3 linked regions of the Homo sapiens genome follow. The protein of the gene in region 2 purifies or fractionates together with the protein of the main gene of each other region. This does not show direct contact. Each region holds a gene or a part of one and is shown on either strand. Other genes may lie near its edges.

Region 1 (3,655 bases), on a different chromosome or scaffold from region 2:
AATCGAGATTGACATGCAGTGGGCTTACTGGAGGTGGGGGCAATGCTGGTGAAAACACCTGTGACAGAGTGAGGGCACCTGGACTCGCAGAGGGGGAAATAGAGCTGTGATGCAGATGCAGCAGAGGTCTCAGTGCAGGGGAGGCTCTGGAGCTGGGATGATCCTTCAAAGTCGCCCTGAATACAAGCAAGGGGGCCAGGCTTTCAACCCCCTTCTGCCTTTCCTCTAGCCTTGTCTAGTCATTGGGTGCAGGCTGACCTTGAGTGAAGGAACTCCCCTTTTAAGGAGGGACTCATCTGTGAGCCATCAGCAAGCAACATTCATGGCAGCTGGAGAAATGAACGCCTAGGTCCTTAAGTCATACAGGCCCCTAGAGCATCTGAATCAGAATCACCTGGGAGGCTTATCGTAAAACACACTTTTTGGCATCCAGAGGTGCTGAATTGATCTGTAGGAGTGAGGGCTGGGCATTTGCATTTTCTATAAGATCCCTAGGTGATTTTGATAGTCACTAGAGTTTGAGAGTCATTCTGGTATAGGACTTTAAGGCCAAAGTATACTTGTCATAAGGGAGTATTTGGCCAGTTCCTGGAAGGTTGAATGTCCTTTATCTCATTTTAGATCTAAGGATTCTATTAGGTTGATCTGGATTGTTAAAACAGATACTTTGTTTCTTTGATTTGAATAAAATTATTTTCATCCTAGACAAGAAATCGCTTTGAAGGCACTAGATCAGAAGTGGAATCACTGATGAAAAAGATGAAGGAGAATCCCCTTGAGCACAAGACCATCAGTCCCTACACCATGGAGGGATACCTCTACGTGCAGGAGAAACGTGAGTGCTTTGACTAGCAACAGCTTGGGATGTACTCAGGCCTCTTACCTAGAAGGTGGAGGATGTATTCAGCAGTGCCTACCTTACTGTAGATACATGCTTGGATAACAAGAACAATTTTATAGTTCACCTTTCCAAAGAGAAAGATGATGTCCACAGAATCTTGTCTACCTTTGTTTTTCTTTATGAATGGGAATTCCTTTGGGAACCTGCAATTCTTTAAGGCTCTGTGGTTGCTCTTCTCTCTCTAATGTTACTCTACTCTTGGGGTTCCTGTACCCCTAGTCCAGCTTTATGTACCATACCCTGAGCATAGCAGCCTTGGAAAGGTCTTACATGCTAGGCCCCTGTTATCTATCAGCAGTGTATCCTTTGGTAGACTTAATACTTGGTGATTCTGTTTTCATTTGACATTGTTTCAGCAAGGCCCAAACAATCATGACTTAGGCCTTTTTCCTCTTCTCCTCAACTCATTTCATTCCAACACTTGAATTTTATGAAAAGTAGGAACAAAGGCTCACTTCAAGAGCCAAGAAGAAGGCTGCATGCGGTGGCTCACGTCTGTAATCCCAGCACTTTTGGAGGCTGAGGTCGGTGGATTGCTTGAGCTCAGGAGTTCAAGACCAGCCTGGGCAACATAGTGAAACCCTGTCTCTACAAAAATACAAAAAGTAGCCAGGTGTGGTGGTGTGCACCTGTGGGCCCAGCTACTTGGGAGGCTGAGGTGGGAGGATTGCTTACCGGAGTGAGCCTGTTGAGGTTTATAAGAGCTCAGGAGGTGGAGGCTGCAGTGAGCTGAGATTGCCACCACTGTACTCCAGCCTGGGTGACAGAGCAAGACCCTGTCTCTTAAAAGAAAAAAAAAAAAGAGCCAAGAATACTCATTGTTCTGCCAGTGATGTCTAGGAAAGGAATGCCAGGTGCTGCTAACATGGACATTTTAGTGATGACTCACAAGTTCATGCCTTATGGCTGGGGAAAGGCTCTGTGATGGGGCCGTGCCGTTTAGGATAGCACATTCAGACTTAATTCGTGTATGCAATGCTAGGAACGAAAGAAAGTGAATGTTTTTTTCTTTAGTGGGTAATTCTTCTCCTAGTCCTTTGGTAGAGAACATTGGTCTTTTCAGATTTTTGCAGGTTTTGTGTTCTTTCATGTCCTGCTCTTCATGTAGAGTTAGGCAGATGTCTTCACTCCTAATAGCTTTCCGATGGGATAGAATAGAAATACTTGGTTTCACTAATTATTCTATTTAGTAATTACTCAAAAATTTGTTTGGACTTAAGTTTCCTGGTAACTGGGGCAGTAGTGGTGTTGGAGTATTGGCTGTGATGAGGATTACATTCCTTATTCTTACAGAGATGAGCCTGTTGAGGTTTATAAGAAATGTAGCTACTTCAGCTGTGTGTTTTGTATATGCCTGAATACAAAGTGATCCCCTCTTTGCCCAGTGAGAAGATCCCTGCAAAAGGTTTTAGGTCTACTTGAAAATATAAATTTTTAGGACTCTAAAAATATAGTTCAAAGTCCACCTATAATACTTAATTTGTTAATATATCATTCACTTACATATATAAAATCAATGTTGTTTTTTTGCACTCTCATGTCACACACTTTTATTCAGACACTTCACATGCTCTTTCAACATTAGTGTGTTGATTATCATGAGGACACTTTTTTGTTCCCTAACACAGTCCAGAGCACATGATGGGGATACAGCACTTTTTTTTTAATTTTAAATTTTTTGTAACTTGTTATTTTGAAATAATTTCAGACATACAGAAAAGTCGCAACAATGGTGTAAGGAACAACCATAAACCCTTTACCCAGTGCATCAATTTTTAACATTTAGCCACAATGATATCATTCCTTCTCTCTCTGTGTGGGTGTGTGAGTATTCACGTGAGTACAACTTGCATACACACACATACACACTTTTTTCTGAGTCATTTGAGAATATGGTTGCATATACCATGCTTCTTCAGTAGTGAGTATTTTCTAAGAATAAAAGATATTCTTTTTATGTAAACACATCTGTTAGGTTGGTGCAAGAGTAATTATGGTTTTTGCCATTAAAAGTAATAGCTAAAATCGCAATTGAACTCTTGCCATTAAAAGTAATGGCTAAAATCGCAATTGAACTCTTGCACCAACCTAATATCAAATTTAACATTGGTGCAATATTTAATCTGAACTACAGTCCGTATTCCAGTTTTGCCAGTTGTATCAATAATGGCCTTCTAAAGCATTTTGTTGTTCTCCAGTACAGAACCTCATACTGCATTTAGTTGTCATGACTTTAGTCTCCTTTAATCTGGAACAGTTCTCCAGCTTTTCTTTGTCTTTCATGACATTGACATTTTTGAACAACACAGTCCAGTTCCTTTATACAGTTTTCTTCAGCATGGGTTTATCTGGTGTTTCTTCATGATTAGATTTGGATTATGCATCTCTGGTCAAATCCTACATAAGAGTTCTTCTCTGGGGCCACATCTGGACACATGTGGTGTCGACCTGCCCCTCAGTGGTGATGTAAATTTTGATCACCCAGTCAAGGTATTGTCTGGTTTCTCCACTATACAGTCACTATTTTCCCCTTGTAACTAATTAGCAATCTGAAGGTAACACCTTAAGATCATGTAAATATCCTTCTCCTTATCACACTTTACCTCCATAGATTTAGCATCCATTGACAATCCTTGCCTGAGCTGATCTTTACTATGATGGTTGCAAAATGGTGACTTCTCAGTTCCACCAACCCCTCCACATTTAATAGTTGCCATTCAGTGTACTTATGTAAGGAAGAGTCCTGCTCCTCTT
Region 2 (3,387 bases):
AATTGAAAAAATTCTTTGCCACTGGGTAGAATTAAATCTGACAGGAAACCCTAGGAGTTTTTATTAGTACCATTATTGTTTTCTTTGGCTCCATGTATTATGTCGGTAAAATGACAAAAAAAAAAAAAGGAAAAAAATTGTAAAAGACAAATATTTTGTACAAAAATACAAAGTTTTAAAAGCTCTTTAAGTATATTTCATATTATTACTAATAGTTGGCCTATATATCTGTATGTCTGCATATTTTTCCTACACTTGGGATTTTAGAAATGTATGGCACTGTTTACACAGTATATGCTTAAGTTCTTCCCATAACTCAACGACCAATGATAACCTTTTTCTGATTGGAGTGTTCCATACTTTGGAAGACATAATTTGTATAATCGCACGGTTACTGACGGAGGAGAATCTATGTGATTCAGTCCATGTGCACAATGAAAATCAGCATATCACCCTGGGGAACATTTTAGTTCCCAAGTCTTTGGGTAATGACGGATGGTAAAAAACACTAGCTGTCAATTTTTTTTCAGTAATTGGTTTTCAGTGCTTTTTTTTTTTCAATCTGATGAGAAGGTGATGCAATTAGAAAGGAGTGTCCTTTGCCTTTGAGAGCTGAAAATTTGCTCATGTGATCCCATCACAGTCCGTTATAATGCAGATGACAGTACTAAAAGAGAGAAATAAGAATGGGCATTAGTTTTTCTTAAATAATAAAGTTAATGTGCAATTCAAAAAAAGGGAACGTGTATTTTTATAGGACAGTGTCTAAAATACATCATTCAACAATGCTTATATTTTCAAAGAAATGTCTAGAAGATCTTATTTGGATGAAAAGATAAGTTTCATTTTGAAAAGCCAAGTTTCATTTTGAAAAGCCTATTCTGGGAAAGCCTGGTCCCTACTCAAATCCCAAATGGCCAAACAAAGCATACAAAAGACAAATCTGAGTTACTTGTCACCATCAATTATAATCCCTTGTTTAGATATCTGTGTTTTTCCCCCTCAACTGACCCAGCTGTGAGTTCCTATGTGTCTTAAGGTCCCTAGCACTTGGACCAATGCCTGACACATCAAAGGTGCTCAGTAACTGTCTGTTGAATGGCAATACGGATAATTTATGCCCCAGTTACTTCCAAAAATAGTTTGACCAAAATATATTTGAGGTTTTTGTTTTTATATGAACAGCTTTATTGAAATATAATTGACAAATTGTATAATTCACCCATTTAAAGCATATAATTCAGTGGTCTTTGGTATAGTCACAAAGTTATGCAATTTAGAACCAATCTAATCTAATTTTAGAACATTTCCATCACCCCAAAAAGAAACCCCATACCCATTAGCATTCATTCCCCATTTCCTCTGTCCCCTATCACAAACTTTTAATCTCATTCTGGTGAAGAAAACTAAGATGCCACATTCCAAAGAGGGTCGTGTGTTAAATGAAGCTTTAGATACATAGCCTTTGAAGTCAAGAAAATCTCCAAAAGCTGCTTTGGCTTATGAGCTGATAAGCAGCACAGACCATCTCCCTCTATTATGTATCACAGGATCTGGCCTATAGTAGATGCTCAATAGATACACGTGGAATTGAACGCTTGGCCACCTGGATTAGCTGTGTATGGATGTCTACGGAAAAGAACTAACATTGGTGCTATATCTCTTTTCTTTTTTGAGATGGAGTTTCGCTGTTGTTTCCCAGGCTGGAGTGCAATGGTGCGATCTCGGCTCCCCACAACCTCTGCCTCCTGGGTTCAAGCTATTCTCCTGCCTCAGCCTCCTGAGTAGCTGGGATTACAGGCATGCGCCACCATGCCCGGCTAATTTTGTATTTTTAGTAGAGATGGGGTTTCTCCGTGTTGGCCAGACTGGTCTCAAACTCCCAACATCAGGTGATCTGCCCGCCTCCACCTCCCAAAGTGCTGGGATTACAGGCGTGAGCCACCGTGCCTGGCTGGTGCTATATTTTAAAGAACAATTAACTCACAATATAAGATACTTATGTGGGTCAGTTAGTTTAGCATTCGTTGAGTACTTCCTACATGTGAGGCACATTTATTAACTTATTTAAATCTTCACAACCTCGTGAAGAAGATGCTATTACTATTTCCCTGAGGTTAATCACCTGCCCAGTTAATAAATGGCATAACCAGGGCTGAAACCTAATTGCAGTGCCTGCATTCAGGGCCCTTGTACTCACCACCCCTCACCCTTTCATAGGACATAAGCTGGCAGCTCCCTCTTAAATCCCATCTACTGCTCACCTGTCTCCCTGTCTTTTTCGCAAATGAAGTTATTGACGTCTTCACATTGGAAATCGTTCCACTGCCCAGCATAAATCAACCCAGCACAGTCTTCTCCTGGCCCATGGCCATGACCCCAGTTATCCGGCTGTCCAGCTTTCCAATTTCTTTTAGCAAAACAGAAATTGAATGTTATTTGCACAGTAATGCAGAGCTTTTCTTTACTCAAGAGCAGCAGAGAATATAAAAAAACAAAATTGAAGCATGTCATTTATCCTGGAATGAAAATGCAGTTTAAAAATCAGTACATGCTCTTATTCAGAGAAAGGAGCAGCTGTTTTGCAGAGTAATGCATAATGCGGCATCTCCCTGCGCGCTTGTGATCTTTGCTACCATGAACCAAACTCACTAGGCTGGTTCATCAGAATGCAGAGGGAGCGAATCTTGCTTTGGGACAGTTAGATGAATAACTTTCTAATGTGTACTGGAATGCTGACTTCTGGGCATGAGTGTATATATGTGTGTGAATATCTATTCATTATGAGGACATGATACACACACACACACACACACACGCACACATGATCTTGTGAGAACCCAGAGGGACCTTGTACATTTCAATATCTTGCCTCTAACAAGTCCAAGAGCCAGGAAGAGAAAGTGAAAGACTTTTGATATACATTTACAAGAACCTACAATTACAAATAACTGGTTATGATTGTCTGGGTGAGTTGTAGAAGGTTGATTGCTTTAGAAAGAAATAGTAACTTAATCTTACTGAAAATGACTCCTACATTTCACTCCCTTTTTTGGGAGAGAGATTCTTAAAAACAAGTTTTCTTTAGGATGAGTTCACATGGGGCTTCTTAACTTGGATGCTGCTGCTCAGAACAGCACCTTGCCATGGATAACAGTTCTTGATTACGTTTCCACGAATAAATCAGGTGTGCTTCCAGACTCACCCCTTGAAGGTTCAATCTTGTCTAAGAAGCAGATTCATGCACAGAAGCTTGTGGCTGCTGCCTGAGAGGACAAGCCTGCCTCATGTGGAGGGTCTGGAAGAACATCTGCAGCGGAGGGTGCTTCCTATAAACAATGACTCATTACCGCACTGGCCACAGGGTGTCCTCGGGTCACCCGAGGA
Region 3 (3,655 bases), on a different chromosome or scaffold from region 2:
TGTGCTGGTATTCTGTGCCCCAAGGAAGGAGGCTGGACATCCCTCATCTGTTTCTCACTGGTGTCTTTCTTCTCTCCCTTGCAGGGCACATGACTGACCTGATTTATGCAGAGAAAGAGCTGGTGCAGTCTCTGAAAGAGTACATCCTTGTGGAGGAAGCCAAGCTTTCCAAGATTAAGAGGTGTCCTAAGTCCCCAACCATCCTTAGTTGGCCTTCCTTCCCTTCTGCCCCTCAAGGAACAAGGAAGCCATCCAGGGTGCCTATAAGAGGAAACCTTTGAGAGGGTGATGTGGGGCTGGCCTGGTTACTTCATGCCAGTGCTTGAGAGGAGCTAAGTACATGGGCTAAGGAGTCACTGTTTATTTTCTATTTAAGACCTTTTCCCTTACATTGGGGGTCCCAGCTGTTATCTAGATTAAGGGGCTAGAAGTATCTGTGGGGAGTTACTGTATTCATTTTTCATTGCCTCTTGATGAAAAGGGCCCCAGAACCTGGCACCAGGGAATTCTCACTAGGAAAATTGTCACAGGTCAAGACCTATGTGGGTGGACGCATTAGTCTTCCTTTTCCTCTGGTTCCACAGCTGGGCCAACAAAATGGAAGCCTTGACTAGCAAGTCAGCTGCTGATGCTGAGGGCTACCTGGCTCACCCTGTGAATGCCTACAAACTGGTGAAGCGGCTAAACACAGACTGGCCTGCGCTGGAGGACCTTGTCCTGCAGGACTCAGCTGCAGGTGAGGGACGGTGAGCAGGTGCTTGAGTGAGCCCATATGTTTGTGTGCTCATGCCTGGGTTGTTGTGTCTGAGCCTGTCTTGGGTCTGGGTGTTGGTGGGCAAGTACATTGTGGAAACAGGACCCTGCTGGTCTCATGGCTCTCTCCCTTCTCTGTGGGGACCTGGAAGTTGGCTGGCCTTGGTTTTTAACATGTAATGATGTTCAGTTCTTTTTTTAGCGTCTTTTTTTTAGTGTCTGTCTTTTCTTATTTTTTGCTAATGACATTTTTCCAATTATACTTTAGTGATACATGTTTATAGAAAAGTCGGAAAACACAAAAACAAGAGAATTATAATTCTTAATCCAGTTGCCCAGTGGTGAGCATTATTAAAATTGTAGTTTTTCTACCTATGCATATACATTTAAAAAATGGAACTATACATACATACCAGGGCATGCAAACTCAGTTGCTTGGAGGGACAATGAATTTACAAGTGTCAAGTGGGCTGGATGGTGGGGCCAGGGCAAGTTGGGGAGCATAGGTCTGATCTAAATTCATTCCTATTCATATGTTTTACAAACAAAGCATATCTGTTGGTAGATTTGTGACAGAAGAAAAAATTCTGTGAATTTCTCAGCTTCTTTATATGCCATTCAATGTTCTTCTGCAACATGATTTTAATGGCTGGATGGTGATTACCTGTCAGATGGTGATAATCTGTCATACTGATAATACTGTCAAATGGGTCAAGTCATTGGATATGGGATTTTTTCTGAATTATCAGCACCTTTTTACATATTTCTTGGTGTATACTTCTGATTACTTTTTTAGGGTAAGTTCCTAGAAGTGATATTACCGATGAGAGTGTGAACTTTTTAAAAGCTTTAAACTATACTTGGTGCTTTTATTGTGATAATACTTTTTATGCCCTAATACTTTTCTGTCAATAAGAAGAGATGGTACGGTGGGCCTGGAGGTGGGCTCTCCTAACTCCTAGCCCTGGGTTTAGTCCCCTGGACTCACTGACTTTTTTTTTTTTTTTTTTTTTTTTTGAGACTGAGTCTCACTCTGTCACCAGGCTGGAGTGTAGTGGCGGGATCTCGGCTCACTGCAACCTCTGCCTCCGGGTTCAAGCAATTCTTCTGCCTCAGCCTCCTGACTAGCTGGGACTATAGGCACATGCCACCATGCCCAGCTAATTTTTTTTTGGTATTTTTAGTAGAGACAGGGTTTCACCATGTTGGCTAGGATGTTCTTGATCTCTTGACCTCGTGATCCACCCATCTCCACCTCCCAAAGTGCTGGGATTACAGGTGTGAGCCACCATGCCCGCTGCCTTTTTTTTTTTTTTTTTTTTTTTTTTTAAAGGGACAGGGTCTCACTATATTAGCCTAGACTGGAGTGCAGTGGCTATTCACAGGTGCGATTGTAGCACACTGCAACCTTGGACTCCTGGCCTCACGTGATCCTCCTGCCTCAGCCTCCTGAGTAGCTGGGACTATAGGCACAGTGCCATTGTACCCAGCTCTTCACTGCCTCTTTTCCCTGAGCTGTGAGTGCTGATTAACTTCAGACTAGCTGTCTCTCTGGCTGAGACATTTTAGCCCATGTGGCCAGACTGGGTTGGGCCTGGGGGCAGGGTGGCCTCTGGAGAGGGATTGGTGAGCTCAGCCAGGCTGGAGCTGTGCCCAGTGAGCTCACTGCCTCCAGAAACCACGGCTGCCTTTCCCAGACTCCCGCCTCTCCGCCTGGGCCTGCAGCTCGGGACAGGCTGTTCTGCCTGCACGGCAGGAGACTAAGCCTACCCAGATGACCTCCTCTCTCCAATCTTGTTCTCCACACCCTACACTCCCACCATCATCTGGTTCCTTTGGAAAACCTTATGATTACCTGGAAGGAGATAGGGCAGGCCCAGAGAATAATTGGTTGTTTTCATCTCTGACTTTGAGTTCTTGCCCCTGAAACGAGCAGGGCATGCTGACAGTGTGGCTTTTCCTGGCAGCATGTTCCCCTACTCCCACCCCACCAGATTCTAAACTCTTTAGAGTCCCTGACCATGTAGCTATGAAGACAAGGAAGGCAGGGTTACAGCTTCTTGGTCCCTGTCCCCAGTTATGGCTGAAGTGGATGTTTAGGTCTGAAGTCATAGGTGGCAGTGGATACAGCTACTCTTGGGAAGAGGTTGGGGAAGGAATGGCCTTGTTGTTCCCCTCTCACTTCTCAGCTTAGAGGCAGAATTGAAGGCCCTAAGTCAGCCTGGGAAGGCTTGGCTCCCACCTGGGATTGTAGGAGGTACACATCTTACTTTACAGCTAGGGCTTGGAGTCCCAGAAAAGCCTCCTTGGAGTACTTCTGTGGTCAAAAGCTCTCCCACGCTTCAGGCTGTGGTCTTGAGCACCATAACTGGAGAGCCCATGCCCTGAACTCATTGAAGGTCTGAGTGGTGGGAGTACAGAGGAGAACAGGCCCACCGTGGTCTCTTAGGGGACGGACCTTGCTGGGTTGGTGCAACCCCACCTTGGTCCTTGGCCTGTCTAGGTGGTCCTTCAGCTGTCAACCTAGGGGGAGGGGGATGACTTCCAGGACTTTCATCATCACCTTTCTGGATGATAAGTGCCAGTGGTCAGTAATGAGTGGCCAGCTCGGCTTCATTAGTTAACTGTCATTGTCCCTTGGACTCCTCAACTTGAAATGTGTGCTGGAAGTCTGTGTTTACCTGACTAGCCCAATTACCCTGGATCAAGGTTTTCCATGGGATTTATTTTCCACTGAGTGGTTGACAGTTCTTCCTGAGTCCTCTCCCGTGCTCTTCTCAGTTACCCTCTCTATCCTCTGTTTCTTCTGTCTCCACCAGCTCTGACTGAATGATTTGGAGCCAAGACTTCTGGACTCCTAAATATTAACCAATATGGGGGGCTGCTTCTACTTAGTTCCAAA

Evidence for each region.
Region 1: the proteins of COLEC12 (region 2) and ARHGAP26 purify together in Homo sapiens (affinity purification with mass spectrometry; one large-scale study listed by BioGRID and IntAct). This does not show direct contact.
Region 3: the proteins of COLEC12 (region 2) and P4HA2 purify together in Homo sapiens (co-immunoprecipitation; one large-scale study listed by IntAct). This does not show direct contact.

Annotation. Positions count from the first base shown.
Region 1 is NC_000005.10:142,902,835-142,906,489, forward strand, and holds part of ARHGAP26 (rho GTPase-activating protein 26), read left to right. Parts: intron 1-705; coding exon 706-835; intron 836-3,655. UniProt on the Homo sapiens protein: GTPase-activating protein for RHOA and CDC42. Facilitates mitochondrial quality control by promoting Parkin-mediated recruitment of autophagosomes to damaged mitochondria.
Region 2 is NC_000018.10:319,398-322,784, forward strand, and holds part of COLEC12 (collectin-12), read right to left. Parts: intron 2,411-3,387; coding exon 2,265-2,410; intron 668-2,264; coding exon 648-667; 3' UTR 1-647. UniProt on the Homo sapiens protein: Scavenger receptor that displays several functions associated with host defense. Promotes binding and phagocytosis of Gram-positive, Gram-negative bacteria and yeast.
Region 3 is NC_000005.10:132,214,278-132,217,932, reverse strand, and holds part of P4HA2 (prolyl 4-hydroxylase subunit alpha-2 isoform 2 precursor), read left to right. Parts: intron 1-14; exon of another isoform or gene 15-84; coding exon 85-181; intron 182-584; coding exon 585-736; intron 737-3,655. UniProt on the Homo sapiens protein: Catalyzes the post-translational formation of 4-hydroxyproline in -Xaa-Pro-Gly- sequences in collagens and other proteins.